Regions from separate parts of the Homo sapiens genome. Here region 2 is linked to region 1. The links come from fine-mapping of genetic effects on plasma protein levels. Region 1 holds a variant in brackets. A gene starts in the other region. All regions are shown on their reverse strands.

Region 1 (8,328 bases):
ACACCCAGCTGAATTTTTTTTTTTTATTTTTAGTGAAGACGAGGTTTCACTGTGTTGCTCAAGCTGGTCTCGAACTCCTGAGCTCAAGTGATCCTCCTACCTCCACCTCCCAAAGTGCCAGGATGACAGGTGTGAGCTACCGTGCCCATCCCATAATGTCTTAACATCTGGAGAATAATACATGTTTTCTTTAATCCTCAAAATAATTCAGTGAGTAAAATCCTTCTTCCATGATTGCAAATGAGGAAATGGAACAGCGGTGAAGCAACTTGTCCCTGGCCACAGGGATGTTAAGTGCAACCCTGAGATCTGCACTAGCCTCTGCATTTCTCTCCAGGGCCTTTTTGAATGCATGGCCTTCTAGTAGAGCTTTGTAGGTTCTCATGTCATCCTAAGACTCAGAAAGTCCATCAGGTTTCCCCTGGTAGAATCAAAAGTCTTGTAGTTTATTGGTCTTGTTAGTCTTAGTCCCAGTTAATAAAAAAACATATATATATATGTACACACACACACACACACACACACACATATATATACATGCATATATAAATTATAGGGATATTTTGTCTTTTTTTTTGAAACAGGGGCCTGCTCTGTCGCCCAGGCTGGAGTGCAGTGGCACAAACACAGCGGACTGCAGCCTTGACCTCCCAGGCTCATGCAACCCTCCCACCTCGGCCTCTCAAGAAACTGGGACCACAGGCACGTGCCATCATACCTGGCCAATTTTTCAGTTTTTTTGTAGAGATGGGGTCCCCTGTATTGCTCAGGCTGGTCTCAAACTCCTGGGCTCAAGTGATCCTCCTGTCTTGGTTTCCCAAAGTGCTGGGATTGCAGGTGTGAGCTACTGCACCCGGCCCAATAAAAAAATCTCGTTCTGTGAAAGAAATGTTTAATAAAAGTTGTATTGTCAAATTTTTATAAAGTGAATCCCTTTTCAAATGAACCAGTGTAAAAGAATGCTTGAAAGAACTTCCAGTGAAGCAGAGTCCTTTTGCAATAGTAAAATTTACACCTTTGTTTATCTGTTTTGTGATGCAAATTTGGAGGGGATATTTGTTTTTTTTTTTTTTTTTGGTAGAGCCTCTGTTGCCAGGCTGGAGTACAGGGGCACGATCTCAGCTCACTGTAACCTCCGCCTCCTGGGTTCAATTGATTTCTGCTTCAGCCTCCCAAATGGCTGGGACTACAGGTGCCTGTCACCACACCTGGCCACTTTTTGTATTTTCAGTAGAGACAGGGTTTCACCATGTTGGCCAGGCTGGCCTCGAACTCCTGACCTCATGATCCGCCTGCCTTGGCCTCCCAAAGTGCTGGGATTACAGACATGAGCCACTGCAGCCGGCTATTTGGGTCTCTTAAAAAAAGGCATACCCACCCAATTAAAGTCAAATTGCATTATGGAAAATGTTTGTGAAAATCAAAACTCTCTGTAAAAAGAGCAGTAACATTGGGCTCTAAGGTAAAGATCAATGCTTCCTGGAAAACATCTACCTTTCTACATCACCAGCAATTGATATGCACTGTACAGCTGCTTGGCAAAAATGGCCAGAACAACAAATGGTAGTATCAATACTCTAAGACAGGGGTCTCCAAACCAAGAGCCGAAGACAGGTCCCGGTCTGTGGCCTGTTAGGAATCAGGCTGTACACCAGGAGGTGAGTGGTGGGCAAGCGAGCATTACCACCTATATTAGTCCGTTTTCACACTGCTATAAAGTGTGAGATATACCTGAGATAGTAATTTGTAAATGAAGGAGGTTTAATTGATTCACAGTTCCACATAGCTGGGGAGGCCTCGGGAAACTTACTGGTGGAAGGAGAAGAAGACACTTTCTTTTTTTTTTTTTTTCCGAGACGGAGTCTTGCTCTGTCGCCCAGGCTGGAGTGTAGCGGTGAGATCTCAGCTCACTACAACCTCCGCCTCCCAGGTTCAAGCAATTCTTCTGCCTCAGCCTCCTGAGTAGCTGGGATTAGAGGCGCCCACTACTGTGCCCAGTTAATTTTTGTATTTTTAGTAGAGACAGGGTTTCACCATGTTGGCCAGGCTGGTCCTGAGCTCCTGACCTTGTGATCCACCCGCCTTAGCCTCCCAAAGTGCTGAGATTATAGGTGTGAGCCACTGCACCCAGCGCAGGCACTTTCTTCACAAGGCAGCAGGAAAGATAGAGAAAAGCCCAGAGGAAATTGTCACTTATAAAACAATCAGATCTCACGAGAACTCCCTCACTATCATGGGAACAGCATGAGGAAACTGCCCCCATGATCCAATCACCTCCCACCAGGTCTCTCCCTCAACACCTGAGGATTACAATTCAAGATGAGATTTGGGTGGGTACACAAAGCCTAACCATATCATTCTGCTCCGGCCCCTCCCAAATCTCATGGCCCTTTCACGTTTCAAAACCAATCATGTCTTCCCTCAGAGTCTTAATTCATTCCAGTATTAACCCAAAAGTTTCAGTCCAAAGTCTCATCTGAGATTAGGCAAGTCCCTTCTGCCTATGAGCCAGTAAAATCAAAAGCAAGTTAGTTACTTCCTAGATACAATGAGGTACAGGCATTGGGCAAATGCTCCCATTCCAAATAGGAGAAATTGGCCAAAACCAAGGGGCCACTGGTCCTATGCAAGTCCGAAATCCAGCAGGGCAGTCATTAAATCTTAAAGCTCCAAAATAATCTTCTTTGACTCCATGTCTCACATCCAAAACACGCTGATGCATGGCCTTGGGCAGCTCCACCCCTGTGGCTTTGCAGGGTACAGCCCACCCCCTCCGACTGCCAGCTGCTTTCACAAGCAGGCATTGAGTGTTTGTGGCGTTGTCTGTGGCTTTTACAGGCACACGATGCAAGCTGTCGGTGGATCTACCATTTTGGGGTCTGAAGGATGGTGGCCGTCTTCTCATAGCTTCACTAGGCTGCCTGAGCTCCGCTTCCTGTCAGATCAGTGGCGGCCTCAGATTCTCCTAGGAGCAGGAACCCTGTTGTGAACTATGCATGTGAGGGATCTAGGTTGTCTGCTCCCTATGATAATCTAACTAATGCCTGATGATCTGAGGTGGAACAATTTCATCCCAAAACCATTCCCCCTCACTCCCACCCCAACCCCAGGTCCGTGGAAAAATTGTCTCCCACGAAACCGGTCCCTGGTGCCGAAAAGTTTAGGGACTGCTGCTATAAGAAACCAGTCCCAACTTCCTTAGAAAACTTGAAATTGCCATGTAGGGATAGTCAAAGGGTAGAAAAGCTGCTTAAGAAGCTGTTTTCTCCTAACCCTTCTCTCTGAGATTCTGCAGTTTTATGCAACAAGATCAAGAAGGTATCCATTGCACATAGATGTTTACTGATATCGTAGAGCTAAGATTTAGTGAGCATCACTTGATGCCTGACTGTGCTAGGGGCCTGCTACATCTCACTGGATCCTGACATATAAGTTTTATTACACATATCTTTCCCATTTTGATATTTTTAAAGTGCAAAACAATGTATTTTGGGGAGAAGGGAACCAGAGCAATAGAGAAACATATTATAGAAAGTGAAACTCTGACAAAGTCACTCACAGAGATAAACTTTTCTGCAATTTTTTTTTACTTAGTACTATATCTTGAAACTATATCTGGGCTGGGCACTGTGGCTTACACCTGTAATTCCAACATTTTGGGAGGCCAAGTGGGGTGGATCGCTTGAGCTCAGGAGTTTGAGACCACCCTGGACAACATAGTGAGACCCTGACTCTACAAAAATTAGCCCGGCATGGTGGCATGCCCCTGCAGTCCCAGCTGCTCAGGAGGTTGAGGCGGGAGGATTGCCTGAGCCTGGGAGGTTGACGCTGCAGTGAGCTGTGACTGTGCCACTGCGCTCTAGCCTGGGTGACAGAGCAAGATCCTGTCTCGAAACAAAAAACAAAACAAGCATAAAAGAAAATATCTCTGCATCAGATCTTATTCTTTTTAACAGCAGGATCATATTCCATTGGATTGATGTATCACTTCTTAATTAACCACTTCCCTGTTTATGATTGTTTCCAATTTTGGCTACTGTAAAATGCTGCAATAAACATCCTTTTACGTGTATCTGCAGTAAACA[T/C]CCTTTTATATGTCAAGAGTTTCAGAGAAGTTCCTGGAGGTGAAATGGCTGCTTCAGAAAGTAAGCAGATATAAATATTGTAATAGTTCTTGCCCAACTGCTTTCCAAAATGTTTATCTTTTCAGTACATTTTCCGGGTAAGGGCTCTCAGGTCTTGTAAACTAAGGGCTGTCTTTCCTTTCTGAGCTTTAGAGTACTTGATTCTATAATGATTACAGAACGATGAAACAATGAGCCCCTCGAGACAGGATTTCACTCTTCCTTTATCTTGCTGTCAAATGCATGCCAAGTGTGTTCAGACAGAACCTGCGTTACTCTGCCTGGCTGTGTGATTCTCCACCGCTCAAAGGCTTCTCCAACACATTTCTGTGTGGCTCCCTGGGAGCTGCTGGCAGATGGCCTGGGGCCTGTCAATCAGCCTTTGTGAACACAATCAGTTTGCAGAACTGAGGGACTGAGGCGTCCTGACCCATTTTCTGCTTCCATCACACCAGAAGTTGTAAACTCATGGTGTCATTGGAGACATGGGGGTGAGGTATTCCCAACACGTAAAGAATCATCAAACTAGAATTTCTTTTATTATTATTATTTTTTAAATTTTATTTTTGAGATGGAGTCTTGCTCTGTCGCCAGGTTGGAGTGCAGTGGTGCGATCTCAGCTAACTGCAACCTCCACCTCCTGGGTTCAAGCGATTCCCCTGCCTCAGCCTCCTGAGTAGCTGGGACTGCAGGCACGTGCCACCACGCCTGGCTAATTTTTTTTTTTTTGTATTTTAGTAGAGACGGGGTTTCACCATGTTGACCAGGATGGTCTCAATCTCCTGACCTCGTGATCCTCCTGCCTTGGCCTCCCAAAGTGCTGGGATTACAGGTGTAAACCACCACGCCCGGCCCAAACTAGAATTTCTAAAGAAAGGGCCCAAAAGCCCTTGGAAAGTAAATCATTTGGCAACTACATGCTCTCAGACTAGTCTCTCAAATGCCACAGAAGAGCTTTTTCCATAGGTTATAAACTAGAGCACAGAGCTAGCACTGAAGTGCAGTTCAGCCTGGTAGGGCATAGGAAATAGCACTTTTGTGTGTGGTCAGTTTGGACATTGGGTCTTTCCAAACCCTGACCCAATTATAGGCGGCAGCCCAATGTAGCTAATCCATTTATAACTAACAATTTCACATATAAAATGAAACTCTAATTGGGAGGCTGAATCAGAAGGATCACTTAGGCCCAGGAGGTCAAGGCTGCAGTGAGCACCACTGCACTCCAGCCTTGGTGATAGAGCAAGATCCCATCTCTAAAAATTAAAAAAAAATTCAATTGCTTTTTCAAATTATTATTAATCAGCACAGGAATACCTTAAGGAAGATTAAAAGAAGTAAAAGGAATGTGGCATACTTAAATCAGGTCTGTTTACCCAAAATATAACCAATAGCTCCGTATGTGTCTGTCTGTTAACCATCTCCACCAATGACACAGTGCTGGAACTGCCCGGGAAGCCCCCTCCCTTATTTTCTAAAGGGGAAACGGAATGGGCTCTGTTCCAAGATCTTCTTCTCCCAAATAGGATAACTGACTACCCTGTGTCAAGTAAGACTGGAAGACTCTGAAGATTTAAAAATAATTAATCCATTCAAATAAAATTACCTGATCCATGTGACAAACACATGGGCCTGGGTTTCCTCATTTTGGGTGGATGACCTCAAAGCATGGCAAAACTTCCAAATAAAATAAGGAATACATTTTGTGAAACATTTTCATAAATATAATTGAGGGAACCAAAGCTTAGTTTCCAGAAACAGTTATCCCAAGGATAATAGGAACTTGTTTTGCAGTTTGTATAGACAATCGGGCATACAGGCTTGGAGTTAGATTAGAATTCCCTAATGGGGCAGCAGTAGATTAATCCACATCTGCTTAGGTGATCCTACATCATCTGAGTTCAGCCAGTTTCTACCTATATTCTAATTTTTCCAGTATGAACAAAATTCTAGACCATGTGCAATTGCAAAACCTCAAATATTGTGCGACCCAATAAATGAACTTATCCAAATACATAGACTCTTAAAATGATTAACCCAGAATCCAGAACTGTTTATCCTTATTTTAATGTTCTGAACAACATGACCTTACTCACTACCGGTTACAAACTGGGTTCCTGTGAGTACTGTCCGTCTAAATTAAACTCAATTCTACCATCTGACCAAACTTCAAACCGAAGTGGCTTTATGGAGTGCTATAAGCAGTAGCACCAAAAATTTCACGTGAAGTTACACTAGTTATTCTTCTACTGTCCATGATGTCAATTAATAGTTGAGATTATGATTAATCCTAACCAAAACTCAGGGAAGTGGTGGGACATAAAACCTCCAGAGATGTTCTGGGGTTCTGAGAACACAGATCTGTAACCAAGTACCCCAATTTTTCTAAGAAATAGTTTAATTATTTTTTTCTCTTTCTTCTTTTTCCTCCTTTTCCCCACTTCTTACTTTAGCTCTTTAGAAATGCAATAATAGTCTATTACCTCCTCTTCATCAGATATTTCTTACAAATTCATCTAACTCTGTGCTTAGATGCTCCAGAGCAGAACGCTCACCCACCAGGAGGCTGCATGGAGAGATAACAGTCAATTTACAATCCAAAGTCCCACTACAAAACTCTCTCCCCACCTGGAGAGTTTTAGGCCACTTTTACAACCCATTTCTGCCATGAAAATGCCAGTCCAACCGCCCAGTAGGTAAGACACTAAGCTGGCACGAGGACCACCCCCAACCTGCTCACCTCCTCCCCTGCCTTTTAAAAGTGCCCACTTTCTACTCCGAGAGCAAAGCCGTACCCTTAAGCCAGGAAGCCTATGCTTCTTCCCCTAAGCTGGCTTTGGAATAAAAGCCACTTTATACCAGAACTCGCGCTTGTGAATTGGATTCTGCAAGTAGCAACTGACAGACCCTGCATTTTGGTTATGATCTGGGCCTTCGTTGAGTGGCCTGCTCATTACTACAAAGTCCGGTCCTGCAGCCATCATGTGGAAATCGCACTGGGTATGGCCAGAGCCAGTGTCCCTCAGCTCCCTGTAGAGCATCAGAAGGGACTGGGGGAGGCTCAGAGCACCAGCAGTGACTTCTCAGCATGCATGAGGGGACACTTGGCAGAGGTGGCCCTGGCTATACAAGCCAGAGGCCGGGGAAGGACTGTAGGCATCAGCCGCAGATGCTGCAGCAAGTGAGGTCAATGACTAGCGACCAGGCCAAATGGAGGACGTTGCTGTACAGGGTGGCAGAAGATAGCATGGACCAGTACACTCCCCACTCTCTACAGAACTCAGCTACAATTAATATACCAACCACATATATAGAATTCTCATTATACCTTAATTATGGGTTATAGAGACCCTACTTCCTTGATACATCCACTTGACAACATCCACCTTAATATCTCTAATTTCCTTATTATTTTTAGTGTAAAATACTGCTATAAGGTGAGCTCTGCTAATAACAGCATCTAAACCCCACGATATTAGTTCTATTCAAAATCCATTTTTCAATGCTAGGAATCTTTATCCCAACCACAGGGATGATGCTATAATCTGCTTACTGTATTTATTTATTTACTTATGTCTATTTTTAAATATTTATTTATTTATTTATTTTTGAGATGGAGTCTTGCTTTGTCACCCAGGCTGGAGTGCAGTGGTGCAATCTCAGCTCACTGCAACCTCTGCCTTCTGGGTTCAAGCAATTCTCCTGCCTCAGCCTCCTGAGTAGCTGAGATTACAGGCGCGCACCAACATGCCCAGATAAATTTTGTATTTTTAGTAGAGATGGGGTTTCACCATGTTGGCCAGGCCAGCTTCAAACTCCTGACCTCAAGGTGATCCGCCCGCTTCGGCCTCCCAAACTGTTGGGATTACAGGTGTGAGCCACCACGCCAGGCCATCTGCTTACTTTAAATGGGTACCCTTTTTCATATTAACTGACCTCTCTCCTCTAATATTAGTTCGACCATCTAACTGAAGCTTGAGTTCCATACTAACCAGTTCTACCCATTCTCTTTGTGTTCTCCTGCCAGCATTAACATGACTTTTACCACTGCTACTTATAAGCAGGTGGGCTGATATGTCCCTATCAATTCCACTCTATTCTACCACAAAGGGTTGAAGCTTTCTATTTTTTCATTTGTTTCCAGTAGGTTTCTAGTTGCTCATTGAAGCATTTTTAGGATGACTGCTTTAAAATCTTTGTCAGATAG
Region 2 (8,308 bases), not on the chromosome of region 1:
AGGGGCCAACACCACCCCTCCCCAGCCAAGTTCTTCCCTCCTAAAAATGAGCTGATTGGCAGCTCAGCACAGTGGCTCATGCCTGTAAACCCAGCACTTTGGGAGGCTGAGGTGGGTGGATCACCTGAGGTCAGGAGTTTGAGACTAGCCTGGCCAATATGGTGAAACCCCGTCTCTACTAAAAAATATAAAAATTAGGCCGGGCGCGGTGGCTCATGCCTTTAATCCCAGCACTTTGGGAGGCCAAGGTGGGCGGATCACGAGGTCAGGAGATTGAGACCATCCTGGCTAACACGGTGAAACCCCGTCTCTACTAAAAATATAAAAATTAGCCGGGTGTGGTGGTGGGCGCCTGGAGTCCCAGCTACTCGGGAGGCTGAGGCAGGAGAATGGCGTGAACCCGGGAGGCAGAGCTTGCAGTGAGCCGAGATCGCGCCACTGCACTCCAGCCTGGGCGACAGAGTGAGACACCGTCTCAAAACAAAACAAAACAAAAAACAAAAATTAGCCAGGCATGGTGGTGGGCGCCTTTTTTTTTTTTTTTTCCAGAGTCTCACTCTGTCACCCAGGCTGGAGTGCAGTGGCTCAATTTCAGCTCACTGCAACCTCTGCCTCCCGGGTTCAAGCGATTCTCCTGCCTCAGCCTCCCGAGTAGCTGGGATTACAGGCGCCCGCCACCACGACCAGCTAATTTTTGTATTTTTAGTAGAGACGGGGTTTCACCATGTTGGCCAGGATGGTCTTGATCTCTTGACCTTGTGATCCACCCGCCTTGGCCTCTCAAAGTGCTGGGATTACAGGCGTGAGCCACTGTGCCTGGCTGATAGTGGGCGCTTTTAATCCCAGCTACTCTGGAGGCTGAGGCAGGAGAATCACTTGAACCCAGGAGGTGGAGGTTGCAGTGAGCCGAGATCACGCCATTGCACTCCAGCCTGGGCGACAATAGCAAAACTCTGTCTCAATGAAACAAAACAAAACACCAACCAAACAAACAAAAAATTGTTTTAATACAAAGTAAAGAGCTCTCAGTAAATGTCAATGTCTAGACAAGCAGAGATGAAACACACAGATGAATTAGACCTAGTGTTGTCTTCAGGGAGCTCCCGGGAAACTGATCTCTGCAGAAAGGGGGAAGCACAGGCACTGTGGGGGGTGCCCAGAGGAGGAGGAGGTGATGCCAGAAAGTTCTGGGGGGATGAGCAGGTGGAATGAATGAGCCGAGGATGAGCTGATGAGATAGTGGAGGAAGCTGGGGTGCAATTCTCTGCCTAAATGGCCTTTGGAGTTCTCTGCAATCTCACCTCTGCCAGAACTAACCTCCAGAGGCCGAGTCTGAGTCCCTGCAGAGCCCAGCCCAGCAGGAGCAGGGAAAGGGAGGACTCGAGCCCTCCAGGTGTCTCCCAACCGCGGCCTCTGAGGGCAAGGGGCAGCGCATTCTGTTGGAACCTCGGACTGCAGTGCCAGGCAGGTAGTTCCCAAGGCTGGAGGCCAGGATCGAAGGGCTGGGCTGGGCCTGGCTCTGATAGCAAAACAATCAGACCACAGCCCAACCCCCTTCCCAGGCAAAGGCCAAGGACTTGGACCCATCAGACCCAGCCGAGGGGCAGGTGGGTCAGGTGGGGGCAGACAGGGAAGGAGGGTGGGACCCTGGGTCTGCCGCCCAGCCAGGGACCCTGCTTTGGCCAGCTGCTGAAACTCAGAGGATGTAGGACCCAGTGTCAGGGCTCCCGTGGGGACACCCCAGGCCCAGGAATTGTCCTTTGGCGACTGAAATCCTCAAGTGCTTGCTCTGCGGTAGGGAGTGGGGAAGAAGGAAAGAGTTCCCTATTAATAACAGGAACAGTTACTATTGCCGCCGCCAGACATGAGGCCTAGTCTTTTGCAGGCATGAGCTCACTGGACCCTCAAGTCAGAGCCATGCAGTGGGAATTTTAGATTCCCACTTTGCAGCTGAGGAAACGGAGGCTCCTAAAGGTTTAGGAAGCCGGGCACAGTGGCTCAAACCTGTAATCCTAGCACTTTGGGAGGCTGAGGCAGGCGGATCGCCTGAGATCAGGAGATCGAGACTACTCTGGCCAACATAGTGAAACCCCATCTCTACTAAAAAATACAAAAATTAGCCGGGCATGGTACACACGCCTGTAGTCCCAGCTACTTGGGAGGCTGAGGCAGAAGGATCGCTTGAGCCCAGGAGGCGGAGGTTGCAGTGAGCCAAGATCGCGCCACTGCACTCCAGCCAGGGTGACAGAGTGAGACTCTGTCTCAAAAAAAAAAAAAAAAAAATGGTTTAGGAGCAACTAACTCTCAGCTGGACTGCATGGAGGGACCAGGATGGGAATCCACTCTTGTCAGTCTCCAGGGCCCTGATCTCCAACCCCACCCCTGGCTCGGCAGGATTAGGATTCTACAATACATCCCTGGCAGTAACTGGCTTTGCCCACAGCTGGAAGCCACCCTCTGCTCCCTCACATCTTTAGGAGTCTTGCAAAAGACTCCATGGGGCTCTCGAAGAAGGAACTGGGGACTCTCCATCTCCCCGACCCCATCCCAAGAGCTAACCAAACACCAGGAGTTCCTGCATGTCAGGAGCGGGAGAATTCAGTGGAGATGGGATTGGGGAGACTTCCGGAGGAGATAAGAGACAAAAGGGGTGGGGTGGGGGCATGGGGAGAGGGGCACTTGGTGGTAGGCATTGCCGAACACAGTACCTTGGGTGTGGACAGCGGGGGCCCAGGCTCCCAGGAAGCCGGCCACCAGGCAGGCCAGGAGCCACAGGTTCATGCTGCAGGCGGGTCCTCCTCCCTGGGCACCTGGACGAATAACGGGGCCACCTGGGGTCGTGGAGGGAAGTGGTAAGGACTGAGGAAGAGGAGGGGAGTGGGTACTGGGAACATCCCCCCTCTTAAGCCCCAGGCATATGGCAAGGGAAGGAGGTTGTATAAAGTAGGAACAAGTTGTGCTGGAGGGAAAAGCTGTTCATCTCAGTCATGTTCAAGGAAAAGACTCACCGATATCCACTGGGTCAAGGGAGCTGATGCCCGCCGGGCTGTAGGCCAAGCTGTCCCATCTGCAGGACCAACACGCTGAGCTTCACTCTTTATAGACAGAGCCCCACCCAGCCACCCCCTGCCCGCCCTCCTCCCTTCCTCCTCCTCTCCACCTGCACTCTCAGCCTCTGGAATTCTCCCTCTTCTACAGCAAGCTCCAACCTCGACCCACAGGCCCCCTTGCCTCCCCACTCCCCATCCCAGGCCTCCCAGCCAGCACCCCTACTGTCTCCAGAAAGGGCCTTTTCCCCTGTTTCCCTCACCTGCACACACCTGGTGGACACTGGCTGCCTGCGAACAAGGCTCAGACTGCCTTGAGCCCCCAAACAAGCCCTTACCTTCATGCTCCCCCCGCCCTCAAGCCACCTGTTCCCTGGTGGGTCCCCAACTTCACTCCATTTCCCTCTCCTTCCACACCATGGTTAGGTAACTTAGCATGTCACAGAAATCCTCTGGTTGTGATCACAGGCAAATCCATAGAAACAGAAAGTAAATTAGCGGTGGCCACAGGATGGGGGGAGGGGAGAATGAAGGACTGACTGTGAGAGGGTATGGGTTTCCTTTTGTTCTGAAATTAGATGAGAGTGATGGTTACATAACTCTATGAATATAGTCAGCACGGCACAATGGTGCACCTCCCACCGGTGAACAACCCCAACAAGAAAGAAACTCTCTAGGCCAGGCATGGTGGCTCATGTCTGTAAGCCCAACACTTTGGGAGGCCGAGGCCAGAGGATTGCTTGAGCCCAGGAGCTCAAGACCACCCCGGGCAATATAGAGAGACCTGCGTCACTACAAAAATTTTTTAAAAAATTAGCCTGACGTAGTAGTGCATACCTGTAGTCCCAGCCACTCAGGAGGCTGAGGTGTGAGGATTGCTTGAGCCTTGGAGGTTGAGGCTGCAGTGAGCTGTGATCATGCCACTGCACTCCAGCCTGGGCAACAGAGCAAGACCCTGTCTCAAAAAATGGAAAAAAAAACGGTGGCCGGACACAGTGGCTCACACCTGTAATACCAGCACTTTGGGAGGCCGAGGCAGGCGGATCCTCTGAGGTCAGGAGTTCGAGACCAGCCTGGCCAACATGGCAAAACCCCATCTCTACTAAAATTACAAAAATTAGCCGAGTGTGGTGGGGGGGCACCTGTAATTCCAGCTACTCAGGAGGCTGAGGCAGGAGAATCGCTTGAACCCGGGAGGCGGAGGTTGCAGTGAGCCGAGATTGGGCCACTGCATTCCAGCCTGGGCGACAAGAGTGAAACTCTGTCTCAAAAAAAAAAAAAAAAAAAAAAACAAAAGAAAAAGAAAAAATGGAAGAAATGTTTTGTTTTTGGAAGAAAAGCCAGGAGCCCCGGGTAGCCATGCCCTCAGGAAGCAAAGCAACATTCACCGAGAAGGCATGTCTTTTTTTTTTTTCTTCTGAGACGGAGTCTTGCTCTTTTGCCCAGGCTGGAGTGCGGTGGCGCTGTCTCGGCTCACTGCAAGCTCCGTCTCCCGGGTTCACGCCATTCTCCTGCCTCAGCCTCCCGAGTAGCTGGGACTACAGGCTCCCGCCACCACGCCTGGCTAATTTTTTGTATTTTTAGTAGAGACGGGGTTTCACCATGTTAGCCAGGATGGGAGAAGGCATGTCTTCTTTCCCTGGGGCAGCAGGACCCAGCCAGGACACAGGGACTGGGGGAGACACGAGGTGAAGATTAGGGAGGGCGAAAGGAGCGCTGCAGAGGCCGCACAGCTGATTGCTTTAAACTTTTTATCGCCTGCATCCATAGCTACATCTGACCTCTGTGGGTATTTATCACATCCTAAACTCCTTTCTCATTTCTCCCCTTCCACTGGGAGCCCAGAGGCGGCGGCCCCTAGCCTACTTCCCTGTCCCAAACCACATGGCCGGGTGAGTGGGGCTTAGAGGTGGGGCCGGGCCTGGTGGGTGTGGCTTCTAGCCGGGGACGTGACTAGATAAATGACACTTAGAGCCCAGGGGCAGGGCTGGGTGGGCGTGGCTTATGGCTATGGGCGGGGCTTGCTATATGGCTCCGAGTCAGGGGCAGGGCAGAGTGAGTGGGATTTAAGACAGTGGGCGGAGCCTGACAGATGGCGCTTATGGTAAGGGGCCGGGCTTTGTAGGAGGGGCTTAGACTGGGGCGGGGCTTGCACGGTCAGCCCCGCCCCACCAGAGCAGTTAAGACGCGTCGGGGGCAGGTGCTCTCACCCGTCCCGTTGCTGCGGCCAGTGGCAGCCCACGGGCCGGGGCGCTGTTCCAGTTCCTCCGCCTCTTGCTCTGGGTGGGTGAGGCTGGACCAGGACGCGGCTCCGCGTGGCTGCGAGCGTGGGGAAGCGGCGTGGCGGGCTGGGGCCAGCCTCTCCGCTACGGCTCACTGCCCCCTACCTTCCCAACCCGCGGGCCGCGGCCAAGACGGTGTTACCCAGACTTGGGGGAGGTCCCCAACGTGAGTCTCCCTCCCTGCCTCACCCCTCACTGTTTGTCCCGCCGGCAGCCTTCACGGGGAGGAAGGGTTCCCAGTAAGGGGGCCCTCCAGGGACCAGCAAGCACGGAGCACTGGGGTGGGCGCGCTGGGGACCTGGGACCCAGGGGTTGGAGCAAGAAACGGGATGATCCCGGAGTTCTGAGGACCACAGTTGCTTTGAGTAAAGGCCAGACCTTCACAGTCGGGGCTGGACTGGCCTCTTCCACTCCTGCAGCAGCTGGGGGCATTAAGAGTAATCCGCTATCGGCCGGGAGCAGTGGTTCACACTTGTAATCCCAGCACTTTGGGAGGCCGAGGCGGGCGGATCACCTGAGGTCAGGAGTTCGAGATCAGCCTGGCCAACATGGTGAAACCCCATCTCTACTAAAAATACAAAAAAAAAAAAAAAATAGCCGGGCATGGTGGTGCGCACCTGTAATCCCAGCTACTTGGGAGGCTGAGGCAGGAGAATTGCTTGAACCCAGGAAGTGGAAGTTGCAGTGAGCCAAGATCTTGCCATTGCACTCCAGCCTGGGCAACAAGAGCAAAACTCCATCTCATAAAAAAATAAAAGAGCAGTCCGCTATCAGCAAGGGTCCTCTTCTCCGCCAGTGTGAAATCAGCACAGCTGGGGGGAACAAGTGCCCCCCACACCGACTTCTGTTCTGCACCTCTGATGATGGGAGCAGTTGAGGGTGGTCTCCATCCTGTAGCTCAGCCAAATTCAGAGACCAATACCCCAGAGCCTGCAGGGTTGGGTGGGTAGGCAGGTGTCTTTCTAGACAAGCCCAGTTGGTTGCAGTGGCCAGGTGGTGGGCAGGGGCGATGAGATGTTCTGGGAAGCCTGCACCAGCCACCACCACATCTGCCCTACCCAGTGGCAGGCACCTCTAGTGGGATGAAGGATGCTCCTGGGTGCTCACCATTGGCCCAACTGTGCAAAGGAGGAGATTGAGGGTCAGAGAAGCCAAGTTACTTACTTTTTTTGTTGGCCAGGAAAATCTAATTTTTATTTCTTAAATACTGTGAAGAAAAGGACAGTCCCCCAATGGGGAAGCGCCATAGAGCAGATGACTGGGAGGTCATCGGCAAAGGCTCAGGGGCACTGGGAGAACACTATGGGCAGAAGTGGGGGTCCTCCTGTAGTCACTTTTGCATATCAGACCCCAGCTGCCTGCAGCTCTCCTGAACTCTGGTGCCTCCAGGTCCCTGATGAGACTCTTGGCTTCTGATGGGCCCCCACTGCCCTGCATGGTCACGAGTCTTGTAGGGAGCAATCCACACCCCAGGAGCCCCGTCTGCCAGGCCTGGACTCCTGTTGTACCCACAGCTGCCTCTTTTTTTTTTTTTTTTCGAGACAGAGTCTTGCTCTGTTGCCCAGGCTGGAGTGCAGTGGCAGGATCTTGGCTTACTGCAACCTCCACCTCCCGGGTTGAAGCGATTCTCCTGCCTCAGCCTCCCGAGTAGCTGGGACTACAGGCGCCTACCACCATGTCTGGCTAATTTTTGTATTTTTAGGAGAGACTACATTTCACTATGTTGCCCAGGCTGGTCTCGAACTCCTGACCTCAAGTGACCTGCTGGCCTTGGCCTCCCAAAGTGCTGGGATTACAGGCTTGAGCCACCATGCCCAGCCTCCAGTTACCTCTTTTTAAAGAGAATTTGGTTATTTGAAAGATCTTTCTTCTTTTTTATGTAGGCATTTATTTATTGCTATAAACTTCCCTCTTAGAACCACTTTTGCTGCATTCATTGGTTTAGGTATATTGTATGTCCATTTCAGTTTGTCTCAAGTTTTTTGTTGTTGTTGTTTCTGTTTGTTTTATTTTGTTTTTAGAAACATCTCCCTCTATCACCCAGGCTGAGTGCAGTGGCACAATCGTAGCTCACTGCAGCCTCCAACTCAAGTGTTCCTCCCACCTTAGCCTCCCAAATAACTGGGACTACAGGTGAGCATCACCATGCCTGGCTAATTATTTTTATTTTTTGTAGAGATGGGGGGAGCGTCTCACTATGTTGCCCAGGCTGGTCTTGAACTCCTGGCTTCAGGTGATCCTCCTGCCTCAGCCACCAAAGTGTTGGGATTACAGGCGTGAGCCACTGCACCTGGCCTCAAGATATTTTTTAATTTCGTTTTAATTTCTTCTTTGACACATTGGTTGTTTAGGAGAGTGTTGTTGAATTCTCACGTGTGAATTTTCCAGAATTCCTCCTGTTATTGATCTCTAGTTTCGTATCACTGTGGTCAGAAAAGATACTTGATACAATCGCAATCTTACATTTGTTTTTTTGTTGTTGTTGTTGAGACGGAGTCTCACTCTGTTGCCCAGGCTGGAGTGCAGTGGCACCATCTCGGCTCACTGCAAGCTCCACCTCCCGGGTTCACGCCATTCTCCTGCCTCAGCCTCCCAAGTAGCTGGGACTACAGGCGCCCGCCACCACCACACCTGGCTAATTTTTTGTATTTTTAGTAGAGACGGGGTTTCACCATGTTGGTCAGGCTGGTCTCGATCTCCTGACCTCGTCATCCACCCGCCTTGACCTCCCAAAGTGCTGGGATTACAAGTGTGAGCCACCGCACCTGGCAATCTTACATTTGTTCAGGCTTGCTTTGTGGTCTAACATGATCTATCCTGGAGTATGTCCCCTGTGCACTTGAGGAGAATGTGCGTTCCGCTGCTGTCAAATGGAATGTTCTACATATGTCATTAGTTCCATTTGATCTACAGTGCATTTCAAATCCAATGTTTCCTTACTGATTATCTGCCTGGATCTGTTCGTTGCCTTTTTTTTTT

Alleles and levels. Positions count from the first base shown, and alleles are read on the strand shown. Strength reflects both the effect of a copy and how common the allele is.
As copies of C replace T in region 1, the plasma level of the protein whose gene starts at base 3,071 in region 2 goes down (moderate association).

The links. PIP is the posterior inclusion probability: the model's chance that the variant is causal. Protein levels are from antibody-based Olink assays in UK Biobank. Linkage for the fine-mapping came from a reference panel and not from the study's own genotypes, which makes the PIPs less certain.
Region 2: it holds the start of CCL25, and the variant in region 1 is fine-mapped to the plasma level of the CCL25 protein (UK Biobank, PIP above 0.99).

The regions. Positions count from the first base shown.
Region 1 is chr8:42,241,618-42,249,945 of GRCh38, reverse strand. It overlaps a transcript of IKBKB-DT not described here. Among named protein-coding and RNA genes, the nearest start is that of IKBKB-DT, 25 kb to the left of the region's middle. The variant T/C (reference allele first, on the strand shown) is at 4,086.
Region 2 is chr19:8,047,523-8,055,830 of GRCh38, reverse strand. It overlaps CCL25 (C-C motif chemokine ligand 25), which reads right to left and starts at 3,071. Exons shown (of 6, transcript NM_005624.4): 1 at 3,009-3,071; 2 at 2,709-2,831. The coding sequence starts at 2,781. RefSeq lists silencers at 5,069-5,128, 5,429-5,518.